Regions from separate parts of the Homo sapiens genome. Here region 2 is linked to region 1. Evidence: fine-mapped expression QTL. A gene starts in region 1. The other region holds a variant in brackets. All regions are shown on one strand. Distances are between the middles of the regions. Region 1 holds the start of PTER (phosphotriesterase related). Region 2 overlaps PTER (phosphotriesterase related).

Evidence for each region. PIP is the estimated chance that this variant, and not a neighbour inherited with it, causes the effect.
Region 2: its variant is fine-mapped to the expression of PTER in skeletal muscle (GTEx, PIP 0.91). The same link has a PIP of 0.9 or more in whole blood.

Annotation. Positions count from the first base shown.
Region 1 is chr10:16,432,156-16,442,699 of GRCh38, reverse strand. PTER (phosphotriesterase related) reads right to left here and starts at 5,690. Exons shown (of 5, transcript NM_001261836.2): 1 at 5,653-5,690. RefSeq lists enhancers at 5,096-5,145, 5,166-5,345 and a silencer at 5,766-5,815.
Region 2 is chr10:16,509,123-16,519,666 of GRCh38, reverse strand. It overlaps PTER (phosphotriesterase related), which reads right to left. Exons shown (of 5, transcript NM_001261836.2): 5 at 5,922-8,621. The coding sequence ends at 8,411. C1QL3 (complement C1q like 3) reads left to right here. Exons shown (of 2, transcript NM_001010908.2): 2 at 4,960-5,933. The coding sequence ends at 5,139. Among named protein-coding and RNA genes, the nearest start is that of C1QL3, 7.5 kb to the left of the region's middle. RefSeq lists an enhancer at 1-238. The variant CT/T (reference allele first, on the strand shown) is at 6,178.

The sequences.
Region 1 (10,544 bases):
CCTGCAGGCTCTGAATTTATAAAGTGAGAAGAAAATCTGTCAAAAGAGCTGGCCAGGCACATGCAAGTCAACCTAATTCTTATTTACTTATTTAATAGAGATGGGAGTCTCACTGTTGCCCAGGCTGGTCTTGAACTCCTGAGCTCAAGCAATCCTCCCGCCTTGGCCTCCCAAAGTGCCGGGATTACAGCATGAGCCACCGTGCATGGCCAACCTAACACTTTTAAACAAATTCTGATGGCAATCAGATGACAGCTCAGGGCATGGGCTCTGACCAAATAAATCTTTATTTCAATTTCTCAATTACATGGTCGGGCTTTATCTGTCCTCCAAACTGTTAGAGAGCAAGACTGATAACATCTAACCTTTCAGATATGCAAGAATGTAGGAGATGAGACATGTCGAATTGTCAAGGCATAAACATGAGATAACTTTGAGAATTTATGAAAATTTAAAAAATGTTTTTAAAAATCAACAAACAAATAATTTGGAAAATAGTAAGCCACATCAGGAAAGAAATTTTGTGGGTACACAGTAACACCAAGGATTTTGTGGTCGCAATGGGCTTTCAGTTACATAAAAGAGCACGAAATTAACAATATTTACCAATATTCTCTTCAAAGTGCTCTTCACACACCAAATAATTACCCAATTAAGCCACTGCAAGATAAGTTGCTATTACTCTGGATTTAGTAAAAAGAACTAATAATTACTCTTTTAACAGTTTCTGTGAAGAAAGAACTCAGTGTTTACCATACACAAGTGAGCACATCCCACCCGTTTAATAAGTAGGGAACAGGAAAAAAAAAAAGGCTGATTATGTAAGTGAATTCAGTGGAGGACACAGATGACTAAGAACCACAACCTGTGAAAACAGAGAATTTAATATGTAAAGCAGAGACCACCATTGGCAAAAGGCTATTTATGAATACTGCCAATACTTAGCATTGCCAGCTGACAATAGAAGATCTTCGGTCATGCCCCGAACAACATAATTCATCACACTAGTGCTTGGGCCAGTCACGTCCAAGCAATTTATCATCATCATATCACTCGCCTGACTATAATAAGGGGAGAACTTTGATTGTTAACCTCTAGGGAGACTGGATTTATAGCCAGTGTCCCCTAAGAATGCAGCACAGCTCTGTCCAAAGCACAATGCTCCCGGCTTGCCTTCTGTTTAACTCAGAATAAAAGAGTGAACACACTGCCCCTAGGACATTAACAGCAAAACCTAAGTCTGATACTCTTAGATCCGAAATCAGATAGCCAGGAAATCATATTTAAAATACTCTTTGAAGCTGCCTGAAAAAAAACGTATTAGTCAATGGTAAGTACGGATGATTCATTTCAAATGTCCTTCAGTGACAAAATAATTTCTGAAATGTATCCACTGATAACTGCATTTGGGAAGAATCATCTTTTCACAACTCACCCACGAACATTCCTCTGTATTGGAAAACTTGGAAGTGCACTGAAAATTGTTAAAAATATATAAATTGTGTTTTTCAAAGTAAAAATGAAAGCCTTGATTCTTATCCCTTCCAGGCATACAGCCTTTACCTATTTTACACTTTAACATGGTCTGCCCTTACAGAATGCAATTAAACATCTAAACGCCATTTTTGCCACTCTTGATTAAAATCACAAAGCAGACTGGAGCATGATGGGAACAGCACACCTGCCATCTCCCACACAGTAAAAGGAGCATGATTCATAGGACAAGCCTCTTTCAGGGCCCTCCCCACAGCTCCCAAGGTATCTGGTAAACCAGAGCCAGAAATCCCCGCATACATGCAGCTTATCTGATAATATTCATTACGCAGGCTTGACCAGGCTAGGCCACAGTAACACTCAAATCCCCGAATCTCAGGGTCTGACCACAACAAAAGTTTATTTCTAGCTCATCGAATACGTCTAACACAGGAAGGCAGGGGGCTCCGCTCACTGTCCTCTATGACCCAGGCTGAGACCACTGCCTCTATCTGGATGGTCACTGCGGCAGAGGGAAAGTGATTGTGACAAATCTTTCACTGGCTTTTAACACAGTTTTACCTGGAAGTGACACAGGTCACTCCACTTGCGTTTCGTTAGCCAAACAAGTCACGTGGACATACCTGCCTGGAAGGAGACAGGGAAATGGCTAACATTCACAGCTCTCACGCTGAGCAGGCACAGAGGTATTTGTACTCAGGTGGTTATTGTTTTGACAAAATAGGTACAACCACAGAGCCAGTTTATGCCAAATGGAACCAGATATTTTATTTTTCTTATTCTTTTTTCTTTTTCTTTTTTTTAAGAGATGATGTCTATGAATGAGAAGCCTTTTGTTATAAAAGTGTTATTAAGGGCCGGGCGTGGTGGCTCATGCCGGGAGGCTGAGGCAGGTGGATCACCTGAGGTCAGGAGTTCAAGAGCAGCCTGATCAACATGATGAAACCCCGTCTCTACCAAAAATACAAAAAAATTAGCTGGGCGTGGTGGTGCATGCCTATATTTCCAGCTAGTTGGGAGGCTGATGCAGGAGAATCACTTAAACCTGGGAGGCAGAGGTTGCAGTGAGTCAAGATAGGGCCACTGCACTCCAGTCTGGGCAATAGAGTGAGACCCTGCCACAAAAAAAAAAAAAAAATCTTGTTAGGAAAACCTGGACCACTGAAAATACACTAGAAACAACAGCTAAAGAAAACAGAACAAAGCCACATTTGATGTATGAAAATATATTCAACAACTACCTCAGTCAAGTTCATAGGGATACTGAGCAGACTCGAGCTTGATCAGAAATTCTCAATATTATTACTATATGGCTTACTAGGGCATTTAATAGATTTGAAGTTGGCTGGCTGCCGTGGCTCACGCCTGTAATCTCAACAGTTTGGGAGGCCGAGGTGGGAAGATCACTTGAGCCCAGGAGTTTAAGACCAGCCTGGGCAACAAAACAAGACCCCCCATCTCTACAAAAATAAATAAACTAATAAATATTTTAAAAAGAAGATATTTAAGGATAAACATTCCTCCTGTATGAATGGGTCCTGTATGTATGTATGTCCTGTATGAACACTTTGCACATGGAAGCAAAGGTGGACATTTACCAAGCTCCTCTCATGCTATACAGTTCATCATTTTGTCTTTAAGCTTAAAACTGAGACAATCTCTAAAATTCTTGCATCAGGGCTGCTTACTCAACTTAAAATAGTCACAGGGATCCTATGGCCAAGTCCTGGCACTGAGTACACGGTCATGTACTTCTCCAGATTCTAAATGATCTATTTTTGTGTTCTCTTACTCTCTGCTTCTATTTGGCTCAAAATTTACTGACACTTCAAAGGATATTAAATTGCATTTTTTTTCAGAAATGCTTCTCACTTTAGCCATATTGAAGGTATTTTCTGTCCTTCACAGGGAAGGGGAAATTTGCCCAGTGAAACTGATCTTTCCCTAAGTCCCTCCAGAAAAGCCACTGTCCTGATTTTCCTCCTGTCTCACTAGCCACCTTCTGGCTGGATACTCCGCTACTGACCTCCAAAATACACATTTATTGATCTTTGATTGAATAAACAGACCCTTCCTGACTACCTTGTAATTTCAGCAGCAAATATGACCCAAAACTGGAAGACCCTCTCAATCTATTCTGGTTTGAGGGCTGCCCAATTAAAAAGGAAAAAAACTGGCCCAAAATATCATTAAATGGTAAAATCAGGATCTTATCCTCATAAATCCATAGATTATTACATCCACTAGCGACCTAGAGACCACTTACCTTTTTTTTTTTTTTTTTTGAGACAGAGTCTTGCTCTGACACCCAGGCTGGAGTGCAGTGGTGTGATCTCAGCTCACAGCCGCCTCTGCCTCCCAGGTTCAAGCAATTCTCGTGCCTCAGCCTCTCCAGTAGCTGGGATTACAGGCATGCCCACCACCATGCCCAGCTAATTTTTTGAAGAAAAGAGGTTTCACATGTTGGCCAGGCTGGTCTCGAACTCCTGGCCTCAAGTGATCCACCTGCCTCAGCCTCCCAAAGTGCCGGGATTACAGGTGTGAGCCACCGCGCCTGGCCTGAGACCACTCACCTTAATGTGTCTAGAAAACAGGCAGGCCAGGCGCAGTGGCTCACGCCTGTAATCCTAGCACTTTGGGAGGCCGAGGCAGCCAGATCATTTGAGCCCAGGAGTTTGACACCAACCTGGACAAAATGGCAAAACCCCGTCTCTACCAAAAATACAAAAAAAAAAACAAAAAACAGAAAATAAAAACTAGCCGGGCGTGGTGGTGTGCACCTGTGGGAGACTGAGCTGGGAGGATCACTTGAACGGGGGAAGTGAAGGTTGCAGTGAGCTGTGATAGCACCACTGCACTCCAGCTTTGGTGAAATAATGAGACCTAGTCTTAAAAAGCAAGAGGCCGGGCGCGGTGGCTTACGCCTGTAATCCCAGCACTTTAGGAGGCCGAGGTGGGTGAATCACAAGGTCAGGAGTTCGAGATCAGCCTGGCCAGTATGGTGAAACCCCGTCTCTACTAAAAATACAAAAATTAGCTGTGTGTGGTGGAGCGCGCCTGTAGTCCCAGCCACTCAGAAGGCTGAGGCAAGAGAATCGCTTGATCCCGGGAGGCGGAGGTTGCAGTGAGCCGAGATCGCACCACTGCACTCCAGCCTGGGCAAGGGCGAGACTCTGTCTTTAAAAAAAGCAAAAGAAAACCAACTTGTAGAAAGTCACTGAGCTGGAACCAGAACTAGAATAGGGCTCTACTCTTTCTGGGTCCAAAGTTCTTTAAATCAGCAACCCCTCTTACTGCCTATGTAAGGGTATACCTTTAGTTCCTGTTGACTTGGGATGTACAAAGAATGAGGTAGTCTAAGAGAGTAACAGCACACTGGCTGTGGAGTCAGAAAGACTCCACCTCTAAACTTTGTTTCCATCTCTAAACTTTCCAGCAGTGTGGCCTAATTTTTCTGTACCTTAGCTTTGTCGTTATCACTAGAATCCTTCACAGGGCTGCAGAGTGGATTAAGCAAGAGTGCACAGGACTCAGACATATGACCGCTGGTAATTGGCTTTTATAAACTGTCAAAAAATATAGACCTGTAATGCCAGCACTTTGGGAGGCCGAGGCAGCAGACTGATTGAGCCCAGGAGTTCGAAACCAGCCTGGGCAACATGGCGAGACACTCTCTACAAAAAATACAAAAATAACCGGACATGGTGGCACGTGCCTGTAGTCGCAGCTACTCAGGAAGCTCAGGAGGCTGAGGCAGGAAGTTCGCTTGAGCTCAGGAGGTCGAGGCTGCAGTGAGCTGTGATCGCGCCAAATGCACTCTAGCCTGGGAAGCAGAGCCAGACCCTGAATCTAAAAAAAAAAAAAAAAAAAAGCTTATTAAAGGAGGCTTAGCACAGCTACCCGATGACGCCCCCGGGCATTGCTGTCGAGCCACAGGGAGCTGGCGCCACACGGGACTGGCGCTCTTTGCAACGTCCCTCAAGCACTTAAGGAGAGGCGGCAGGGCCCAAGCGCAGCGGCTAGAAAATCCTTCCTTCCGGCAGGACCCTCGCGTGGAGCTCTGCAGCGAACCCTGGCCGCGCGGCCTCCGCCGTCGGGCCCCACTCTTCCTACTGGGCCCACAGTTCCGGCTCCTGCTCTGACTCCAAGAAGCCTTACCTCGGGTACAACGCGCTGCCTTCTCCCTGGGAACTTCCGGCAGGCCAACTTCCCTGGCCTTTTTAGTCTCCCCTGTGCCCTCCCACTTCGCCCTCTGGTTCTCTCCCCGCCCCTGGCCCGAGGTCACGCCCTCACCGAGTCCTAGGACACGCCCCGTGGGTCCTTGCCAAGCCCTACCTCTTCGTAGGACACGCCCTTCAAACCCTTGCCACGCCCCACCCTGGTCCGGGGCCGTTCCCCGCGTTTTTGCCTGGCCACACCCTCCTGCAGGCGCTGTCTGACTGTCGGTAGTTTGGCTGAATGAAAAAAATTCGGGGCTAGATCCCCAAACGGAAAGAAACTGTTGCATTTTCCCCAGATCCCAGTTCTCCATAGAACAGTCTGGAACAAGGGAGCATTCCGTAGCTCTTTTGGTTTTCCCCAAGAATAAATCGGAGGTGGTGCTCTGGCAATTTGATGTCACAGTGGGTTCTGGATCCTCATGCTGCATACGGAGAACTTTGGTTTTTGTGTTCCCACTTGTCACTGTTTCCTGCCCCGGTGCCGCGTTTCCTTCTCTTTAGAATTAGAGTGCCGTGCTAGAGCACTTGAACTGGCCCTGGTACTTGCTGTGACTGAAATAAACTTAGTATGTGTGAGTCTGTTGGCAAAACATGATGCTTGGAGCAGCTGCCACAGTAAAGAGTCATACCTTTAGGTATTGTAGGGGGCCAAGGGCAAACCTCTCCTTCGTCCTCTGAAAGTTTGCTGAAAATCAACTGACAAAAGACAGTTTCACAGTAGAAAAGGCATACAAATATACTAGATCGTAACTTTATGTGATCCGGGAGCCTTCAGAATGAAAACCCAAAGATGCAGGGGAAACGGTCCATTTTTTCGCTTAGGTTCAATAAAGTATGGACCGCCATGTATTCAGCTGGTGCAAAAGTAATTGCGGTTTTTAATGGCAAAAACCGCAATTACTTCTGCACCAACCTAAGAGATACTACGATGGCATAAAAAGGGTCTGAGCTAATGCCAATAGACTAAGTGAGCAAGCCCTGTCTGTTTAGATTCTTTTTGGCTTTTCTGTGCAGTGTTCCTTCCTTCTGGGTATAGAGCAGGATCCTTTCTGGAATGGGGGTCTTATGACCTACAGTCAAACAAAGCAGGGCAGAGAATTTCTTTACCGCCAGTTTTGACACAGAAAGGCAGGGGACACGCAGAGTCAAACTTTTAGGTTTTATGCTTGGCTTTGGGGATGAGGGGTTCTGGCTTCTGTGAATCACCTTGGGGAAGAGGGATTCCAGTTTCTAGAATGAGGGGCCAGAGGCAGGAGGACATGAGGTTAGAGAGAGCTGCTTCTAAGGCCTTCATTTTGGGGTATCATTTTCTGAACCCCAACCATATTACACTGTCATCAATTATTATTATTATTATTTTGAAATGGCTCTGTTGCCCAGGATGGATTTCAGTGGTGCAGTCATAGCTCACTGCAGCCTTGAACTCCTGGGCTCAAGGGATCCTCCTGCCTCAGCCTCCTGAGCAGCTGGGACTACAGGTGTGCACCACCACACTCAGCTAATATTTGTAATTTTTGTAGAGATGGAGGTCTCGCTATGATGCCCAGCCTGGTCTCAAACTCCTAAGCTCAAAGGATCCTCCCACCTCAGCCTCCCAAAGTGTTAGGACTACATGCATAAGCCACAGCACAAGGCCTAGTCAATTAATTTTATCCTGAATTCTGAGAAAAAAGAGAATAGGTATGCAGATGGGCAGAAGCTACAGATGTCATTTCAAAGGAAAGTAGAGTTTTAATAATAATATTAATAGATGATGTTTATCGGGGCCAACTCTACCAGGTTTTGTAATGGGTGTATGTTATTTTGTTTAAGATTTTGAGCAACCTGCATGTGGCAGGAGCTATTTCCCTCCAATTACAGACAAGAAAACAAACTTAGGCAAGCACCTTGTTCAAGGATAGGACTAGGGACCCAGATTAGTTGATATCAGTCACTACACTTGCCTTCTTAGTAAAGAATGGGGAATTTTTTTGGTTTGTTTGTTTGTTTGTTTTTGAGACAGAGTCTTGCTCTGTTGCCCAGGCTGGAGTGCAGTGGTGCAATCTCACCTCACTGCAGCCTCCACCTCCTGGTTTCAAGGGATTCTCCTGCCTCAGCCTCCTGAGTAGCTGGGATTACAGGCACGCCCCACCATGCTCAGCTAATTTTGTGTAATTTTAGTAGACATGAGGTTTTGCCATGCTGGCCAGGTTGGTCTCGAACTCCTGACCTCAACTGATCCACCTGCCTTGACCTCCCAAAGTGCTGGGATTACAGGCGTGAGCCACCGCACCAGGAGAGAATGGGGTGCTTTGATAGGAGATTAATAGAAATAAATTAATTCATTTAAATCAGAAAAAAAGGAGGAGAAAAGGATATACAGGTCTCGTTCTCTGTTTTTTGTTTTTTAAGGGTAAAAGTACAAGAAGTCATTTAGAAAAGGGGTTGGTTGGTAAGGGACAGTCAGGGAGAAGATACTGAGGAAAAAATTGGTTCTTAAGGAGGGTGGCTGGGTAAATCCTAGAAACAGAAAAGGGATAAAAATAGGGCCCAAGAGTAGGAAAGACAAGAATAACTGTAGGGGTTAAGAACTGCAGAGGCATGAGTGCTGGGACAGTTGGATATTAGTAGCAATGACGGGCTCACACTGAGATTCTGTAATGAGGAGATGGATCCAGGGAGGCTTCTGGAGTGATTTCAGTGCTGGCTCCCACTTTGTGTGTGCTACAAGCATGGAGCCATATAAATGTGTACCCGACAGTGGGTGGTAAGGAGAGGCTCGAAAGTCCATTATTTATAATGTTACGTATTTTAGTAGTCTATGCTGCTAGATGTTAAATGATACATGAGGTCCTTGTTAAAAAATGACTTCAGGCCAGGCGCAGTGGCTCACGCCTGTAGTCCCACCACTTTGGGAGGCCAAGGTGGGCAGATCACTTGAGGCCAGGAATTGGAGACCAGCCTGGCCAACATGGTAAAACCCCATCTCTACTAAAAATACAAAAATTAGCCGGGTGTGGTGGTGCATGCCCGTAGTCCCAGCCACTCAGGAGGCTGAGGCATGAGAATTGCTTGAACCTGGGAGGTGGAGATTGCAGTGAGCTGAGATCATGCCAGTGCACTTCAACCTAGTGACAGAGAGAGACCCTGTCTCAAAAAAAAAAAAAATTGAAAAGTAAACTTTAGTTTTTCTTTATGGAAGTTACTAAATTCTCCACTGCCCACAGTAAATCCACTGAGCAAGATTTGTGATGGATTTCAAATGCACGCTCTTATTTCTGTGGCTTTACTCCTTAAAAAGATACTAGTAAAGAGATTTTATTTCTTTTTTGAAAGAAGCAGCTACAAAGAAATTTCAAATTAATATGCAGGAGATTTATTTCAGGAACTTTCTCAAACTATTGCCTACAGGTGTGTTCAAAGAAAGGCAGAGGCCAGGTGTTGTGGCTCACGTCTGTAATCCCAACAATTTGGGAGGCCAGGGTAGCAGATCCCTTGAGGCCAGGAGTTTGAGACCAGCCTGGCCAACATGGTGAAAACCTATCTTCCCTAAAAAAACAAACAAACAAAAAAAACAGGCCAGGTGCAGTGGCTCATGCCTGTAATCCCAGCATTTTGGGAGGCCGAGACGGGTGCATCACAAGGTCAGGAGTTCCAGATCAGCCTGGCCAAGATGGTGAAACCCTGTCTCTACTAAAAAACATACACACACACACCCACACACACAAAACTAGCTAGGTGTGGTGGTGGGTGCCTGTAATCCCAGCTACTCGGGAGGCTAAGGCAGAGAATTGCTTAAACCCGGGAGGCAGAGGATGTATTGCGCCAAGATCACGCCACTGCACTCCAGGCTGGGCAACAGAGCGAAACTCCATCTCAAAAAACAAAACAAAACAAAACAAAAATTAGCCAAAGGTCATGCCGTGCACCTGTAGTCTCAGCTACTCAGGAGGCTGAGGCAGGAAAATAGATTAAACCTGGGAGGTGGAGATTGCAGTGAGCCGAGATCGTGCCACTGCACTCCAGCCTGGGAGGTACAGCGAGACTCCATCTCAAAAAGCAAAAACAAAAACAAACAAACACAAACAAACAAAGAACAGTGGAGAAAATCATGTAAATCCAATGCACAAGAATGGAAAACTTTTTAGCATATAGCACCTGTGTACATACTGTAATCCTATTTCACTAAGCACTGTTGTTAGTTAAACACTAAATGCTACTGAATCTTTTAGAAAGTAAAATAAACATTCTTCACTACCGGACTCAAAATCTACTAGCCCTGGGATAGGCAGACAAGAATGGGTGAAAAGGGTTCTTGAGGATGTTCTGCTGTTAAACATGATAATCTGGCATCAAGCTTGTGCCCAACTTTATTTTTCAGTCTTTCTTCCTAGAGAAGCTTAACTTGGAAATAATTTTTGAAACCAAGAATATCAATGTACTGTCGTATGTCTGTGATGAAGTAGCAAAGTTGAAAATCACATTATTAAGGAACCGAGTTTCCAAATCGATCTCTCAGTTAAAGGTTTAGTTCAAATGCACTCTCATTTCTACAGTACTTGCTTTTCCTTTTCATAGTATCTTTGAATTTTGACAGTACCTGTACCCGGGAACACTAAATTGGCAAAAAGAACGAAATCAAAAGCAAACATCCAAAGCCCCTGCTATTTGGGTTAAAATTCTAGAAAACACCCAGGTTTTCATCACCCTAGTTAGTTGTTTTAAATATTTACACAAAAGTAGTCTACAGAAACAATCTGGGGAGGGCAAAATAGAAAATAATCCAGATAATTATCAGATAAGCAGCAGGAAAAAAAAGCAGGACCTATGATGTCAATTCTATCAATGATG
Region 2 (10,544 bases), 77 kb before region 1:
GGACCAGCCGGCCAAGAGGATTTGATTCCCTGAGCCGGTCGGCGCCGCTACAAGGGCTACGCATGGGTCTGCAGTATTCTGCTGGGGCCACTTTACTGTGGAGAAATTCGAGGTCATTGCAAAACCGAAGCTTGTTTGATCTCTTAGTCAAAGGAGGAAAATAATATTTGTAACTACCTAAAAGTGTAATGGGACCTTCTGTGCACGCTGAATCAGTAGCCACTGAGGCGAGGCCTTGCAGCCTGCAGCCTGCGGTGTGGGCTGAGTTTCTCGGTTTTAACTTTGCTTATTGAGTGGCATAGGGGATGGCCCGCGACCCTGGCATCGCCATCAAGAGACCTCCTCTCCTGCAGCAACTTTGACTTAACGAGGTCTATTGGGCTTTAGGTAACTCGACCCCTGGACATTCAGAGATTCTTAGCTATAACCCAGGTTTCTGTTAAGCACCATTCAAGCAGGATTCGGAAGACCTACTTCAGTGTCAGAATTCTTTCAAAAGTGAAAGACCAAAAAAAAAAAAAAAAAAGTCCTAAATGCGTAAGAGAGAAAAAAGACAAAAAACGTCCTATTCTCTACCCTATCCTACAAATAGCTTAAGGGACCCTCAGGACACATATAACAAAAAGAGGAAAAATGGCCACCAGGAGGCACTGACAGGGTTGTTTATTATAGTTATTATGCATGAAAATAATATTAAGATAAATAAAAATTATTCACAGAACAGTAAAACAGTTATAGGCAAATGGCTAAAACGGGCAGGACTCACTGTACCAGAATGGAGCTATTGAATCACCCTCACAAAAAGGCTTATGAACAGTCCCTCAGCAGGCAGCCATGAGACACCCCTTTATTTGCAAATTGGCTCTCTTCTGACTCAAAGGTCAGGTCTGGAAAATACAATCGGGCTGAAGAGATGATTTTTAGAGGTATCAATTAAAATGAAATGATTCCAATTTTATCAGCAAATGTGTAAAAATGCTCACATCTTTAAATATCTGGAAATTGCAATTGCATGAAAAAAGAAGGGATTAATACATTTAAATTAGTTTAAATGTTGATGTCTAGACTGCTGAGCCTGTGTATATTACACTGATTTGAAGAAAATAACACCATGTAGGTGTTCTATGTGCGTTTTGTTTTTAAAATTATTTCACTGTTTGGGGTGTAAAATCTTCCTTTGTATCACACTAGCACACACATTCCATGAGGATCAGGAAAAATAGTAAGGTAAAACAGCTGACCTTATAATGTATAAGTCTTTTCATTGGTAATATTAAGCTGCTACTTCTGCAAAAGGTATGCAACAGGTAATTCAGAAAAATAAATCTATAGTGGTAAACATTTTTTTTTAGTTCAGTGTGGACTATTTTGGAAAATGGTTACTACACTACTACAGTTAAGGAATTTTATCTCTAGATTAGAACTATTTTGTCAAGTCCAGTCTGCAGGCAGTTACAAATGAGAAATCTTTTAAAATCTTTTTATTAATTTTAAATAATACTTCACTCTTGCTTTTCAATTATATTCTGGTCTGATCACTTCTTAGAATGGCAGGTTCCCTCTCTGAGCTGACTTAATTTTTCATAAAACAGAAACTCAGAGATCCATGTCAGTGTAATGTTCTATGGATTAAGTGGATTTTGAGAAGCACAAAAATTAAACTAAAAATGCAGTTCCCTCTAAGAGAGAGAAATGCTTCTGGACTGTAACCATATGAGAGCCATTTTATTTATACTTTGTGTAGAATGTAAGATCACAGATGGAAACATCAAAGACCAGTAAATTAACCTGATGTGCCACTTAACCTTTTGTTTATGATTCCACAGAAGTACAATGAAAATGAAATTACGAGAACATCAGTAGCAATTAATTAAATTACAAATGTCACCATAAATATGATCTCTAATGATAGATCCTCACTAATAAGATAATGCTAAAACTATGAAACCTATTGCAGACACAGAAACATATCCCTAAAATGACCGCAGCTCTCATACTCCCCATGAAGCCATCAACCTAAATTTAATCCTACCATTTGTTGAAAGCCCATGACAGTGCATATTAAAGGTAAAAGTTCAACTCAAATAGCTTTACATTTGGAAAGAGGAAATCTCTTTAATGTTGATAATCCTTTTAGCAGAAAACATGAAGAAAAATTGCTATTTGAATACAATCACTCTAATGCCACTATAATAAATAAGCCACTCGAATGAAAACTAATACTGTTTCAGGATTAAAAGCATAAAATAATTAAAGACCAGTTGGTACTCTTAAAAATTTATTAGTTATGGCACCGATGCCCATGAAATATTTTTAAAAGGATGAGTGGTTTGTGGGTTGGTATTCGCTTATTAGAGAGATCAATGACATGTCAAATTCATAATCTTTTTAGGGTTAAAGAAATACGGACTAAACATAAAGCAGAATCTAAATAGTTATCTTGTAATAAGAAAAGATATTAGAGTAAATTCAGGTAGAAATCGGTTGATTGCGCTGAAGGAAGGATGGATCTTATTCCCAGACAGAATGCTGAAATCACTGTACATTTAGGAATCTGGAAACAGCCTCCAGGGTGAACACATTGCCTTCCTCAATAGTTTGATGGCTTGAAAGAATTGTTGAAGTCACTGAGCTGAATACTAGAGCTTGAAATTTCAAGTCCTGTTATATCTTTAGAGTAGGATCAGGTGAGCAGCCATACCAAAATCATGCCAGGTACACTGGAGTATGGCAATTATTTAATTGGGACAGTCTTACGGTACAGTATAGGTTAAAATCTTACAGAATTACATTCATTAAAAAGCAACCACACTGGCTTGATCCAACAAAGGTGGTAGAAACTGTGAGGGTAACCTTTCAGTCTGTGGAATCACTCTAATGCATTCGCAGGAATTTGTGGTTACGCCTACTGAATAAAAATGGTGACGTTCACTCGGTTTTGTGGTTACACCCTGGAGAATAAAAATGGCATTATATTTTTAAAAGGATTATTGTGTCTAAATCAAGTAATTTTAGTATGTCCTGTTTCTCCAATACCTTCATGTAGAAAACCATGTTAAAGCCCAGTAACCATAGAACATGTCCTAAATACCCAAAGCACTGAATAAAATATGTCTGGTTATTAGTAATAGCTGAGGAGTATATTATGGGTTGATAACTAATGTATTACTAATATAGCTCATGAATATTTTGTTTTTAATTTTTTTCACCATTAAAAATCCAAAGATGAGAAAAAAACACAAGTCATAATAGCAATATCCTTCTTGTAGATTTGTTTCCCTGGGAATTAATGGCTAGATGAAATTAATGAATCAAAGCATTCAACTCCTACAAACTCATGATTAATCTTTAGAAAATATTATGAAGTCAAACTGCGTCATTATTTAATGGTCAAAACGGACCACTTTACTAAATTGGCATATATATTGGAGTCAGTGCTTCCAAGCATAATTACATGGTATATTGCTTTCATTATATTAGTGCCTGTTAGTACAGCGTTAAGCAATTCTAAATCCTTTAAGCCATTTTCTCCTTTTGCTATGTGATACCCAGAAAGACACTTTAAAGATACTACTCAAATGACTTTACAAGTTCAGCAGTGTTAAAGAGTCTTCTTTTTTTAACATTTCAGCATTAACGTGAGACTATATCACAAGAAAATTTAATTGGAAAACTCATCATTTAAATTTTGAAAGAAATGCATGGAAATTCTTGACTTCTGTCTCATTTCTCTCATTTTGCCAAGTGATAAAATCCAGCATATTGTACCCCAAATCATGCATTATTACATAGTGCAGGTTTACAAAACCACTAAATCACTTGCTATGTTATTCAGGGAAATATCATTATAGTGGAATAGAAATGAAACAAGCCACAAAGTAGAAGATGTTTTACTGAAATAAATCAAATCTAAGTCTGCCTGTTGAAAGATTTTCCAAGGCAGAATCACAATATATCTAAATGAATATGAAGCCTAATTTGAGCTAAGGATCTGACAGAATGTCCACAATGCATGAGATGATAGGCAATTTGACTGTTTGTAAATGTCTATCAACTCACTAATGAGATCACAGGCTTACCATGGGCAGATTATAAGCAGCCTCTGCCCTCAAATCAAGCCACATATTTAGAATCTCCTAAGTGTAAGTGGATATTCAACGAAATCATTCAAAAATTCTTGAAACTTGAGAGGCCTCAGAGCATGAAAATTTAGTCCTTTCTTTAACTTTTAGATATGTTGAGGTTAAATTCTTGATTTAAATGCACATGTCATAGTTAAGTAATAAAAAGACACGATGGAAAAAAGAACTCTGAAAACTCAGGTGATATAATCAAAGATGTATAAATGAGCTAAGCTTCTGAAGCAGCCTGGTAAAGGGGGCTTTACATGAATTAGATTTGGAAAGCCCTAAATCAAAAGACTTTTTCTTTTTTTTTTTTTTCTTTGTAAGTAGTAGAGGAGTTGGTATTTTCCTGGGTATTTTTAGCTATTACATACCTCAATTTTCTAATAATTGTGGTGAACAGCTGAACTTAGACTTGAACTTCTGTACTCATAAACAGCTGATTAGAATATTGCTATCTGGCTTAAATTAAAATGCAAAAAATACTATTAGTTTCATTTCAAAATGTGATTGGGCATAGGGATCGAAGGAGTTAGAAAAACGAGTGATACAGGAAGATAATAAATTGTATGCATAGTTTAGAATGTGTAGTTAGATAAGACTGCCAGAATGGTCCCCACTGAAGCACTATTTTGTCCCTTTCTGTCCTCCTTCTCACTAACGTAGCGGAAACTGCCACAGCACTATCCTCATAAAGCTCTGAGGTCAACATGGACTTTGCTATGCTAAATTCTGTACTATGGCAGCAAGTCAGCTTGTGATGCTACATGAATGGCAAAAAAGAAAACTTGAGAATTCTCATTTACGCATCCTAATTCTTGTCTGTTTCACATAGGTGCGTGCTAGTGCAATTGCCCAAGATGCTGATCAGAATTACGACTATGCCAGTAACAGTGTGGTTCTTCATTTGGAGCCGGGAGATGAAGTCTATATCAAATTAGATGGCGGGAAAGCCCATGGAGGAAACAACAACAAATACAGCACGTTTTCTGGATTTATTATTTATGCTGACTGATAATGCAGAAACTAAGCTTATTATTCTGAGTTTGAACACTGGATTCGTATGGCTAACGTCAGTGAATCAAGGATCCCAGGGGATGCCAATGGCAGGGCACCTCAGTTGTGTATATGTGGGGAAATCAAATGCTACCTGACTCACATCTGTATCACTCAGAAACATTATGTAAAAAATATCAAAGCAAGATAAGCAGATGTGTGATCCACTACCGCCAAAGCAAATACTCCTTATCGTTAGTGTCCATGTGAATGAAGTCCTATATAGATCACAAATTTTTATAGACAAATCTAAGACATTGAATTATTTCTTCTATATATATGATACTTTGGTGTACTGTGATCTTGCTGCTTTTATCCATATGTCAGCTTTGGTTCTTGTGAGTTTACCTGCTTATTATGATACTTGGAGTCCATTCATAGTGTGGGGAAGAATGATTTTTGCCCTGCAGGAGAAGGTCTAATTGAAATAATGCTGCTTGTCCCCAAAGAAATTGTTTGCCTTGTACTCTTGTTAACCTTAGAGCTAGACCTGGGAATGATTCAACTTCAAGCCTTAACCTGGAATTTTCTGGATTTGAGGGAATTCCCAAGCCTATGATCTTTTTCACATTTTCTTTTTCTTATATGAATTTTCTTTTCTCTCTTTTCTGGTGATAGTCTTTAAAAATAGAGATTGACAGTGTATCATAGGATTACCCTCTAAGTGTGAAAATGTGTAATTATGTACGGTATTTAGAAAAAGCCCTTATGTGTCCATTTTGTCAACTGAATACATTTAGATTCACTGGGAAAGTCAGAGAAATTTATTCTTTAGTATCAAATCAAACCGAGGCTTTTGCCATCTTTGGAAGAAAAGATTATTCATAACCCAATGCACAAAGGTTTAATTTGAGCTGCTGCATACGTCACCAAGGGGACACTAGGTGAGGCCTTCAAATGATTACTACAAGTCTGTGGCCTGAGGTTATTTTAAAATTAACAATTTCGCATATAGCCTATATGACAACAGAGTGTTTATATTTTATACAAATATCTG[CT/T]AAACATGCACACATATACTCACACACACATATATATATTAGATGAAATGTTTTATTTATGTATAAAACATATACATATAAAACATTTATATATATGGCTTTATTCCACAGGGCACAGTGGCTGTATAGCCTCAAAATTTTAATATAAAAAAGTGTATGCATATATACACACACAAACATGCACAAATTATTTAACTTATTTTGGGTTAAAATATATTTTGAATGACAATATATGGAGTAGCAAAAACAGTTAAAATGACTTCTCTTTAAGAGTTATCCAGAAAATTAATTGTATTAGGTCAAAATGCCCTTTATTTCACAGGTCTGTAAGTTAAGGCTATGGTTGCTCTATTACCATATGCCAATCAATACTTTAACTGCATTCTGTGACAGACTGTTAATATGAGGACTGCAGACACCAAGTGGCTCTCCTTTGCAGTGTTTATGAATTACATGCATTTGAGCTATCAATTTTTTTTTCTTTTTTCTCAGGTGGAGTGAAGCTGACAGTACAGTAGATTTGGAGAGTAATACAAATCCTTTCTTTCTGGTTAGAACACACTGCCAAAAGCCATCTCTTTCATCTAAGGAAAAGATTAAAAATGCATGTTGATATCTCCTAACTATCACACAACTTCCACTATTACAATGAAAAATCTGTTCCCCTTTCATTGCCTCTGAAAACTCTTTGACGAGTAGATTTCAAAAACAGAGATTTTAAAAATTTGCTTGCTTTACTGGTGAAGGACATTTGCATTTTTTTTTTTTATTTATTTAAAGGAATTAGTTTGTTCTCCTGGCTCATTCCTCTTTGTTACTTTCTGTTCCAATACACAGAAAGCTTGATCATCTTTGATCAGCAGAAATATCTTTTATTTAGCAAAGCTCAACTTCCCAAGAGTTATGCATGGTGTGCCTATCTGAAGGTGGTGTTAGCTCTGTTGAAATGCCTGGGTCTGAGTAACTGTCATGATTTTTATGATTAAAAACAGACTCTTCATCAAGAATAATGACTAATTCTAATTGGTCTTTGTGATATGTAAGATAACTCATAAATGAATTGCAATGGATTTTATTTCGAATTAACTATATATTTATCAAAGAGGAACTGGCAGCAAGGGTTTGGAGAATATTTTTAGGTACCAAATAGCATAGTGAGGATTCAACCAAAAGATGAATTTATAAGCAGCAGTGCCCATCACCTAAGTGTTTTAACTAACAGGTTTTAAAAACATTTTATTTACACAAAATATCAGGGCTGGATACCTTTTAAAGAGGAGGCTCAAGTATCGGGCTGTCATTTCCAATAGATCTGACCTTTTCTTCAGATACATAAGCATTATTTTCTCTGTTTAGGTCCAAGGAAAAACAAAAGGTAAAGGAAATAAAGGGAATATACATAAGGCAAACATTTCTCTTTTTTTTTTTGCATTATATCTTACCAATTAATTAAATTGTGGCCTTTGTTATTATAAATGTAATGATTCATTAAACTATATTATGTAATATATTTTGACTTTTATGATTGAATTTTTATAATTCAGTAGTGTTATGTGTTCTTATACAAACTTTGCAAAACAGCAAAATGTATGGCAAAAATAGATACCGGAAAGCCAAAGATATCAAAATCATTTCAGTAGAAGAATATATAGATAGGTGGACAGTATAAAATTAACCTTTCAAAATATTTTTATCATTGTGAATTGGTAATTGTATTACAGTCAGTATCCTTTGGGGAAAAAAGTCTCAAAATTTAACTTCCCTTGTTGCAGAAGCTATTTTACAGTGCCATATTATTCATTAAGCATTAATTAAAGAACAGCAGGATAATTAGTAGGATCATCAATATTACAAGAAACATTAGATCGCTCAAGAAGGAAATAATTTAACTAGAAACACTTTAAATTTTCTCAAGTAGTGCAGCTGATAGATTAGGGAGAAAAACAACAACTCCGCTTAGGGGATATAGACTTTAAATCATTGTTTAGAAATAGGTACTTCTGTATTTATTTTGTTAAGTTAAAATAATAGGGCTCAATTAGGCTGAGTAACTCCCTAGAGGCACAGTTGTAATAGCTGGTCTCAGAGAAGGCAAACCCTCCTAGTTCTCATCAGAAGGAAATGATCTGTCATTAGTCCTAGGTAACTGATTAATATCTCACAGTGGACTGGAAATCGCTGAATGTTCTCTGCAAGTTTTATACTCAAGGTGTGAATTCATAAGCAACCATCCTATTTGAAAGTTAGCCATTGCTTAGGGTTCTCTATTAGAATCTTATCAAGCACATTCTCAGTTATGCCTCTCAGCAACATTTTAGGAACAACATTGGTGAGTATATGAGAATAGCCGTGACCTCCATATTTCATCAGCCGGGTTTTCGTATGTATGTCATGTGCTACCAGAATTCGATCTTCACAGCCCTCTTCCACCAGGAGACGCACCCTGTGAAAAATGTTAACTCATTAGATGTCATTTGTCTTTCATTTTCGCTTTTCAGGATGCTTTCAACTTTTTACTCATTAACCTATTGTGCTTGTCGTAAAGATACTGACTTCTACTGTGGCGTGTGTACTGAGAGACCTTTAATAAATATTGTGTGGTGACGATAAAAATATTGCTGCATCCTAGCAGGAACATATCCTTATTCCATGCATACAGAAATTTCTAACCTGTGACATTTATGACCATGCCTGGCAATACCGCATTAAAGATAGCTTCTAATAGGATGTGCCAGTTTGGATGAATGACCATTTTGGCATTTCACTAAATAACTTTGTTCTGGATTTGTATTCAGCAATCCTCTCTCAAATGCCTCTCCCTGTGGGCCCATTTTTCAGATCTCATTCTTGCTCTCTCCTTTTATCTGGCCAAAAAATATCAAGGACTGTTTGCGATTAAAATAGGGAAACAAAAGGAATCTCACTACAAGTAAAATATTCTGAGAGCAAAATCAGTTGGTCTGCAAGTGAGGGGCATTTGATAAGCTACAAAGCCACTGAAAAAAGGTTGGTCAGCATTTTAACCATTTGCCCCTTTGAAGTCTATGGCAATTTTGATTTAGTTGTAGCCTCTGAGCATTGGATTAAACTGACCAATACAAATATATTCTGTCTTCTTTCCATGTCAGCAAGATTGCTAAAATAATAAGCTGTTCCTTTAAATTTATAGTCAGTGGACTAAAGAACAGCTTCCTGACTATTCTCTAAAAATGAAATCCTCTTTGCTTTGTTAAATGCTGGAATCTGTAGTGTGAGTCACCTCCTGACAGCCACCATCTGTACGTGTCTGGACTCTGGGCAGTGTCTGTCGTGACTTCCATGGGTCTTTGATGGTAGAAGATGCCACTCACAGACAATGGCTCTTCTATGGGATTCTCTGAATAGTTTTTTTGGCGTCTAGATTCTAAAGTGGATCTAGACGGACGGACAGTGCCTTCCTCCAGAGGCTGATTATTTGAAAGGTATCTTTTTTGTTTCAAAAGCATTTCTTGGTGTCCTAGTACATGAGTCATATTTAATAACTACTACAGTGAGCAAAACGTGGGGTACTACACACACAAAAAAAACTCAAGCACAAAGCCCTGCCCTCTGAGAACACATATTTTAAAATAAATTATAATGGAAGAATAGACTTTGTATCTGCAGGTCAAAGGAATGCAAGCACTAGCAGAGAAGAACCATGCCTGTCCTATAAGTGCATGTAATGACTTTTGTGCCACTATGATTTTTTGCCTCATTGAAATTTGTATACTATCCTGAAGTTCTGATCTGCAGTTACTTTTGGAACACACTCAGTTTAGGGGAATTATCTAAGATAAGTTATATTATCACATAAAAAGACAAAGATTTGACAGAATGCACACACAATACTGAAGCTTAGGGTGACAAACCTTGATCCACAACTGCAAAGAAGTATCACGGTATAGGAGGTTTTAGGAAACACTTTCTCCCTGATATTTTCTGGGCATTTTCCAAAATTTTTGCCTATGTTTCTTATCTGATAAATATAATTTCTCACACTATAAAGGCAGATCATGTGGATAAACAAATTCCTTTAAGATGTCCTTTGTCAGACCTTGAAACACAATGTTATCAAATCATGAAGTAGAATGAAAGAGTATAGAGGACAAGATACTCATACTTAAAACCGGGAATCCTTAGAACCCATTAAGTCAAGAATCTGGAGACTACTTATGAGAAAGATAACGTTATGGCTCTGGACACACAATCATATCCTGACTATGAAGAAAACCTGCCCCGTCCTGCTTACACTAAAAGATCATCTCTCCTGTTGTGCCATTATATGGAAGAACAGGAGTTACAGAGATGCTGCCAGAAAAGGGGGAGCCACTACAGACGAGAAGAC